3 separate regions of the Homo sapiens genome follow, and regions 1 and 2 are each linked to region 3. Evidence: fine-mapped expression QTL. A gene starts in region 3. Each other region holds a variant in brackets. All regions are shown on one strand. Distances are from middle to middle. Region 1 has its middle 61 kb from the start of MIR4312. Region 2 has its middle 56 kb from the start of MIR4312. Region 3 holds the start of ANP32A (acidic nuclear phosphoprotein 32 family member A).

The links. PIP is the estimated chance that this variant, and not a neighbour inherited with it, causes the effect. A credible set is the group of variants that fine-mapping cannot tell apart.
Region 1: its variant is the best candidate, but not a certain one, in a credible set for the expression of ANP32A in whole blood (INTERVAL, PIP 0.75).
Region 2: its variant is the best candidate, but not a certain one, in a credible set for the expression of ANP32A in whole blood (TOPMed, PIP 0.84).

What each region holds. Positions count from the first base shown.
Region 1 is chr15:68,739,966-68,742,809 of GRCh38, forward strand. No RefSeq gene overlaps it. Among named protein-coding and RNA genes, the nearest start is that of MIR4312, 61 kb to the right of the region's middle. The variant TG/T (reference allele first, on the strand shown) is at 1,145.
Region 2 is chr15:68,744,918-68,747,761 of GRCh38, forward strand. No RefSeq gene overlaps it. Among named protein-coding and RNA genes, the nearest start is that of MIR4312, 56 kb to the right of the region's middle. The variant G/A (reference allele first, on the strand shown) is at 1,735.
Region 3 is chr15:68,819,426-68,821,925 of GRCh38, forward strand. It overlaps ANP32A (acidic nuclear phosphoprotein 32 family member A), which reads right to left and starts at 1,470. Exons shown (of 7, transcript NM_006305.4): 1 at 1,273-1,470. The coding sequence starts at 1,326. RefSeq lists enhancers at 1-168, 169-750 and silencers at 1,422-1,671, 1,722-1,881, 1,952-2,011.

The sequences.
Region 1 (2,844 bases), 79 kb before region 3:
TTCAGAAGAAACAAGAGATTAATATAGACTGAGGAAAGAGGTAGGCTAGGACTTGAATAACAAGTAGAGGAGCTTCCACTGTCACCTAATACATTAGGGACAAACCACGTCTTCCTACCTCCAACCCAGGAGGCAACTACAAAAACAGAAAGAGCATTGAACTACGAGACCGAAGAACAAGCTCCGGTCCTGCCTCTGTGCCTCAGTGTGTAACTTTGAACATATCATTCAACTTCTGAGCCTGAGTTTCCTCGTCTGTAAAATGAAGCCGCTATAGCCCACCTAGAGGGGTTTCTCTGAGGTTTGGTGAGGTCCTGAATGTAGTAGACCCCCGCACAAAGTAGACCTGACCAGATGTGTGTGGATTTATTTTCAGCCACATAGCCTCTGTCTCTAAGATTTCCCAAAGCACTGGCTGAAAGCCCACCTGAGAAAAGCCTGCATCTGTCAACCCAGCTTCCTGGACCTGAGCACACTCATTCTGCCCAGGCTGATGTGCCATCTTGCCCCTCTTCCCCAACACCAGCACACAGCACCCAAAGCCTTCCTCACACCCAAGAGAACCACGCTCTGAGGACTACCACCTGCAAGAGCCGAAGACTTGAAGGCATTTACCTCCCACAAGGGGGTAACATACTTTCCTCTATCAATTTCTGAGTAAAGAATATTTTCAGGGCCGGGCACAGTGGTTCACGCTTATAATCCCAGCACTTTGGGAGTCCAATGTGGGCAGATCACCTGAGGTCAGGAGTTTGAGACCAGCTTGGCCAACATGGTAAAACCCCACCTCTACTAAAAATACAAAAATTAGCCAGGTGTGGTGGTGGTCACCTGTAATCTCAGCTACTTGGGAGGCTGAGGCAGGAGAATCGCTTGAACCTGGGAGGTACAGGTTGCAGTGAGTCGAGATCATGCCACTGCACTCCAGCCTGGGCGACAGAGCGAGACTCTGTCTCAAAAAAAAAAAAAAGAAAAGAAAAAGAAAATTTTCAAAATGAAATTCTCCAGAATTTTTACTCTCCACTTTAATTCCTGGTGTCAGACAGCAGGACCCTCACGTTCCCCTGGCAACAGAGTTTATTAGGCACCCACAGTGCCAGGGCTGTGCTGGCACCCCAACTCCTCATGGAGATTACAAACTAGC[TG/T]GGGGGGGGGGTGTGGCAGGCCCCCAACAATGCCCATGCACTTATCCCTGAAACCTGTGAATTTATCTGTTACACGGCAAAAAGGGTCTTTGTGGATATAATTGAGGTTTTGAACCTTAAAATAGAGCCATGTCCTGCTTTGCTCAGGTGGGGTCAATCTGGGGTCAATCAGATCACATGAGCCCTTAAAAGCAGAGAACTTTGTGTAGCTGGAATCAGAGACTCAAGTCAGTGGGTGGGTGAGGTGGCTTACACCTACAATCCCAGCACTTTGGGAGGCCAAGGTAGGTGGATCACTTGAGGCCAGGAGTTCGAGACCAGCCTGCCCAACATGGCAAAACCCCGTCTCTACCAAAAATACAAAAATTAGCCAGGCGTAGTGGCACATGCCTGTAGTTTCAGCTACTCAGGAGGCTGAGTTGAGGCAGGAGAATCGCCTGAACCCAGGAGGCAGAGATTGCAGTGAGCTAATATAGTGCCACTGCACTCCAGCCTGGGTAACAGAGTGAGACTCCATCTCAACAAAAAAAAAAAAAAAAAAGAAGAAGAAGAAAAAGGAGGTGGAGGAGGAGGAAACCAGAGATTCAGAGCATGAGGGGTACTCAACTCACTATTGCTGGGATGGGTGGGGACATGAAAAATGTGAGAAAGAATGAAGGCAGCCTCTAGGAGTAAAGATACCCCCAGCTGACCACCAGGGAGGAAACAGGATCCTCAGTCCTACAACCACAAGAAACTGAGTTCTACCAACCCGAGTGAGCTTGGAAGTAGATTCTCCCCTAGAACCTCCAGATAAAAGCCTAGTCCTGCTGACACTTTGGTTTCAGCCTTATGAGACCCCTAAACAGAAAACCCAGCCTAGCTTCCCTAGGTACAGGTTGAACCTGGGAGGTACAGGTTGCAGTGAGTCGAGATCATGCCACTGCACTCCAGCCTGGGCGACAGAGCGAGACTCTGTCTCAAAAAAAAAAAAAAGAAAAGAAAAGAAAAAGAAAAAGAATATTTTCAAAATTAAATTCTCCAGAATTTTTACTCTCCACTTTAATTCCTGGTGTCAGACAGCAGGACCCCCAAGTTCCCCTGTCAACAGAGTTTATTGACCCATAGAGCTGCCCGAGATTGCGCCATTGCACATTGCACTCCAGCCTGGGCAACAAGAGCGAAACTCCAGCACAAAAAAAAAAAAAAAAAAAGTCAGAATGGAGGCATAGGAAGGGAAATAGAAAGGGGATGGCTTTGAGTCAGACACAGCTGGGTACTAACCCTTCCTCCAGCAGCTTGCACAGGTTTCTTTAGCTTTCTGAGATTTAGTTTCAAACCCAAAAAATAAAGAGATGATAAAAAGGACCTATATCACAAAGGGCTGTGAAGAAACAGAAGGCAGGTTATTTATTGATCATCACACCACATGAGGAAAAATACATTCCATACTATATTTTCCAATTCAAAAGCCCTGATTTTTCCCACTTTAACATCTTCGAATCATTCAACCATGCAGCAGTCCTGAGATACTTCTATTGCTTGCACTTGCAAAATCAGTGTTACTGGTTAGGAAGAAAATTCCAAAAGCAAAAATGAAGCATCCTATTAAGAAATGCTGGCCGGGCACAGTGGCTCAAGTCTGCAATCCCAGCACTTTGGGAGGTTGAAGTGAGCAGATCACTTGAGGTCAGGAGTTCAAGACCAGCCTGGCCAACAT
Region 2 (2,844 bases), 74 kb before region 3:
CAAAATAGACAAATCTACAATTTCAGCTGTAGATTTCAACACTTACCTCTTATTAATTGACAGAACAAGGAGATAGAAAACCAATAAGTATATAAAAGATTTAAACAATACTATTAAATAACTTAACCTAATATATAGTTATAAAACACTATACCCAGCACTGGCAGAATACATATCTTGTTCAAGGGTACATAGAACATTCACAAATGTAGACCATATTCTAAGCCATATACAATCTCGATAAACTTATAAGGAATGAAATTGTACAAAATATATTCTCTGAGCATGACAGAAATAAAGAGGAGGGCCAGGTGTGGTGGCTCATGCCTGTAATCCCAGCACTTTGGGAGGCCAAGCCGGGCGGATCACAAGGTCAAGAGTTTGAGACCAGCCTGGCCAACATGGTGAAACCCCATCTCTACTAAGAATACAAAAATTATCTGGGTGTGGTGGTGCATGCCCATAATCCCAGCTACTCGGGAGGCTGAGGTAGGAGAATTACGTGAACCCAGGAGGCAGAGGTTGCAGTGAGCCGAGATCATGCCACTGCACTCACCCTGGGCGACAGAGCAAAACTCTGTCTTGGAAAAATAATTAATTAATTAATTTATTTATTTATTTATTAAAGAGGAAAAAGAAAAATATCTAGATAATCCCTAAATATTGAGAAATTAAACAGTATACTTCCATGTAACCCAAGAGTTAAAAAAGAAATTGCACTGATGGCTGGGCGCGGTGGCTCACACCTGTAATCCCAGCACTTTGGGAGGCCGAGATAGGTGGATCACCTGAGGTCAGGAGTTCGAGGCCAGCCTGATCAACATAGGGAAACCCCGACTCTACTAAAAACACAATAATTAGCCGGTGTGGTGGTACATGCCTGTAATCCCAGCTACTCAGGAGACTGAGGCAGGAGAATCACTTGAATCCGGGAGGTGGAGGTTGCAGTGAGCCAACATGGCGTCACTGTACTCCAGGCTGGATGACAGACTGAGACTCCATCAAAAAAAAAAAAAAAAAGAAAGAAAGAAAGAGAGAGAAAGAAAGAAAGAAAGAAAAGAAAGAAAGAAAGAAATTGCACTGAAAAACCGAAAAATAGAAAATATTTATTACTGAATGAAAATAAAAACACAATAAGCAAAAGTTTATAAGACACATCTAAAACGGTGCTAATAAATTAGATTAATGTATAGCTTTAATTGGTTACAGTGGATAAGAAGTGCCTAAAAGCAGCGTTCTAAGCCTCTATATTAAGAAGCTAGAAAAAAAGAGCAAAATACACCCAAAGTAAATGGGAAGGAAATCATAAAGAGTAGAATTAATGAAATAGAAAATGGACAAAGAGGGCAGGTGCAGTGGCTCTTGCCTGTAATCCTAGCGCTTTGAGAGGCCAAGGTAGGCAGATTGCTTGAGCCCAGGAGTTTGAGACCAGCCTGGGCAACATGGCGAATCCCCTGCCTCTACAAAGAATACAAAAATTAGCCAGTCATGGTGGTGCATACCTGTAATCCCAGCTACCTGGGAGGCTGAGGTGGGAGGATGGCTTGAGCCCAGGAGAGACTGGTGCTACTGCACTTTCAGCCTGGGTAATGACAGACCCTGTATCCAAAAAAAAAAAAAGAATGGAGAATATTAATCAATTTGGTACAAAACTTGATTTTGATGTTTTTTTGTTTTTTTGTTTTTTTTGAGAGGGAGTCTCCCTCTGTTGCCCAGACTGGAGTGCAGTGGCGC[G/A]ATCTCGGCTCCCTGCAAGCTCTGCCTTCTGGGTTGACGCCATTCTCCTGCCTCAGCCTCCCTAGTAGCTGAGACTACAGGCGCCTGCCACCACGCCTGGAACAACATTTTTTTTTTTTTTTTGTATTTTTAGTAGAGACGGAGTTTCACTGTGTTAGCCAGGATGGTCTCGATCTCCTGACCTCGTGATCCACCTGCCTCGGCCTCCCAAAGTGTTGGGATTACAGGCGTGAGCCACTGAGCCCAACTTTTTTTTTTTTTTTGAGACAGGGTCTTGTTTGTTTTTTTTTTTTTTTTTTTGCTTTGCTGCCCAGACTGGAGTGCAGTGGCGTGATCATGGCTCACTGCAGCCTCAAACTCCCTGGTTCAAGTGATTCTCCCACCTCAGCCCCTCTATCCCCTCAGTAGCTGGGAATACAAGCATGTGCCACCCACCTGGCTAAGTGTTTTTTGTTGTTATAGAAACAGGGTCTCACTTATGTTGCCCAGGCTGGTCTTGAACTCCTGGCCTGGAAGTGACCCTGCCACCTCAGCCTCCCAAAGTGCTAGGATTACAGGCATGAGCCATTGTGCCCAGCTAAAACTGGATTTTTTTTTTTTTTTTTTTTTTTTTTTTTTTTTTTTGAGACAGAGTCTTGCTCTGTCGCCCAGGCTGGAGTGCAGTGGCGTGATCTCGGCTCACTGCAACCTCTACCTCCTAGGTTCAAGCGATTCTCCTGCCTCAGTCTCCTGAGTAACTGGGGTTACAGGCATGTGCCACCACACCCAGCTAATTTTTGTATTTTTAGTAGAAATGGGGTTCCCCCATGTTGGCCAGGCTGGTCTCAAACTCCTGACCTCAGGTGATCCGCCCGGCTTGGCCTCCCAAAGTGCTGGGATTACAGGCATGAGCCACCACCCCTGGCCTTAAAATTGGACCTTTGAAAAGATGAATAAAATTGATAAACTAGCTCAACTGACCAAGAAAAAAAGACTCAAATTAACAATGAAAGGGAAATTAAAAAGGGGACATTACCACAGATACTTCAGCTGTGAGAAGGATAATAAGGGACTATTATAAACAACTTATGCCCACATATTCTAAAACTTAGATGAAATGGGCAAATTCCT
Region 3 (2,500 bases):
GATTCCCACCCGTGTAAGTTTCCTCCGGCCGTGCTCCCGCCGCTGCCCAATCAATAACGGCGGCTAGCGGGCAAACTCCCATCCTAGAGCTGCGTGTTTGCCATGCCCGCATAAACGTGGACCCAGCCAGTACCCACCACGGGCGCCAGCTCCGGGCAGCTCGCGTCCTGACAAAGTTTCCCGTGCCCATTTATTAAGCAGGCGCCGAATGGCTGCCGACAAGCCCAGCACTGAGAAAGACGGGCCGGGGGTTCGAGCTGGGGGGCACCAGGGCCCAAAGGCTGGCATCTTGGGGAAGCCGGAAGGAGCTGGGGCGAGGGGGCACCGGGACGTAGCCTTTGGGCAACTTGCACCAGCGATCGCTGGAGGCAGGGAGACGCGGGGATTATCTGTGCCTTAGCACGTTCGAAAATCCCTCCCCCTCCTTCTAATTTATCCTCCCTTCGGAAGGAAAGGAAGAAACATCAGCATCTGGCCCGAAGGTGGGGTGGAAAGAGTGAGGGAGAAAGAGGAGGAGAGGAAGGGAGGCAGAGAAAGGGAGGGAGGGAGAGAAAGGGCGCGTTCACGAACACTACAAAGTTACAAATATGGCTCCCCCGTCTCTCGCCTCATCACTGCAAAGAAATGAAGACGCACTTTAAACTCCAGCCATTCCCAACTCCGCTGCAGCCCCCTCCCCACGCGCTCTCCCCGGGGGCCTCGGCCCACATTTATCAGAAACTAAACCGGACTCGCGAAGCCCCAAACTTATTGTGTGTGCGAGCGAGCGAGCGAGAGAAAGGGAGGGGGGAGGCGCGGGAGGGGGGCGGAAGGGGGGATACATTTATAAAATGTAAAACCCCCTTTTTTTGTTGTTAAATCCAGGAGGCAGCCCCTCTCCTCCTCCTCCCTCGTTAATCTTCCCCCCAGACGGAGTCACGGGAGCAGCGATCTCCGAGGGTGATTTCGCCTCATTCTCTCCGACCCAAACGCGTGCGCCCGCCGGCCCCCGATGGGTGCACACTCGCACGCACACTCTCGCACCCACACTCGCACACGCGGGAGCACACGCACAGGTAGTCACACACCAAGGGCAGCGGCGGCGGCAGCCGGAACATGCTCGGATGGCATTGCAACCCCCCAGCCTTGCCAATTCGCTTGCAGTCCGACCCCCAAACCCGCACCTCCCGGGCGCCCCCCCCCAAAAAAAGTGCCTCCCCCCAGCGCGCACACACACACACACACACAAAGTAGGAGAATGGACCGACAGAGATATTTTTGGCAAATGCTCACATCAGAGGGCGTCCTGTTCCGCAGCTCTAAATGAATCCGTCTGCCCATCTCCATCTCTCGCGCTCTCTCTCTGCAGAGGCTCCCGCGCCGGCGGAATTCAATCAATAAACCCCGAACCCACGGCCGCGCGTTTTAGGACTTTGAAGGCTCAACCAGCTCCGCTCGGTTCTCGAGCCCCCAGCACCCGCGGCGCACACTAACCTGATCGCCGTGGAGGCGGGATCTGCGGCCCCATGGACGAGCGGCAGCGGCCCGAGCCAATCGCCGCCGAGGGTCTCCGGGCAACAGCCAATGGCAGTGGCGGCGGGGGGGGGAAGGGACCAATGGGCGGGCTGCGCAGCCGGCCAGGGAGGCTCGGCCATTTGGTAGTGGTGCCGGAGACGGACCCCTTTAGATTTCGGGGCGGCTGAGGAGCGCGGCGGCTGCTCTGTGGCTGAGTGAGGGGGGTGGGCGGAATGGCGGGGGAAGGGAAGGTGACTGTGCCTCGAGGGCCGAGCCGCCCGGCCTTGCCAGCCAGCCGCCGCCTCAGCGTTCGGCCGGGGGCGGGGCCGCAGGTGCGTTCTGCGAGGGGGAGGGGCGCGGCCGGAGGGGTCGGGTCGGGGTCCCCGCCCGGCCGAGGGCTTCGCGGGGCGGCGCGACGGGGTTGCGGAAGGAGGCGGGCGGCTTGAGGTCCGGGGACCGCGGGCTGCCCAGCGGGAGGGCAGATGAAAGGCCTGGAAGGAGGAGAGGGGTCAGGGTGCAATGCCGGGAGGGGCTCGTCGGGTCCCGGGTCCGGCGGCTCGCGCTGGGGAGCGTGGCTGCCCCCGTCACCCCCACCGCGGCTGCCCAGCAGCCCGCGCGCCCCTTCCCCTCCGGCCTCGTCCCTGTCAGGCCGCCACCATCGCCACCCTCGTATACATAAGTCAGTAAAAGCAAGATGCTTCCACTTTTGGATGACTTACCGCGCGGTCGCGACCCTTCCCACGAAGAGGCTTTTCACTTTGCTGTCATATTAGGTCAGCTTGGAAGAAGTGATCACCAAGAGACACCCAAGATCTTGTTTAGGCAATAAATGAATGAAGACCATGGATTAAGAACCGTTGCTAGATATGTAGAATATTAAAAGGTGGAAAAGGAAGGTGCTCATAACTCCTGGTTTTCTGGACCAAACATAATTTCTGGGCTTTATAGACCTAGTGAAAGAGAACGGCGCACGGTTTATTCTAATCGTCCACCTGAGTCATTCGGT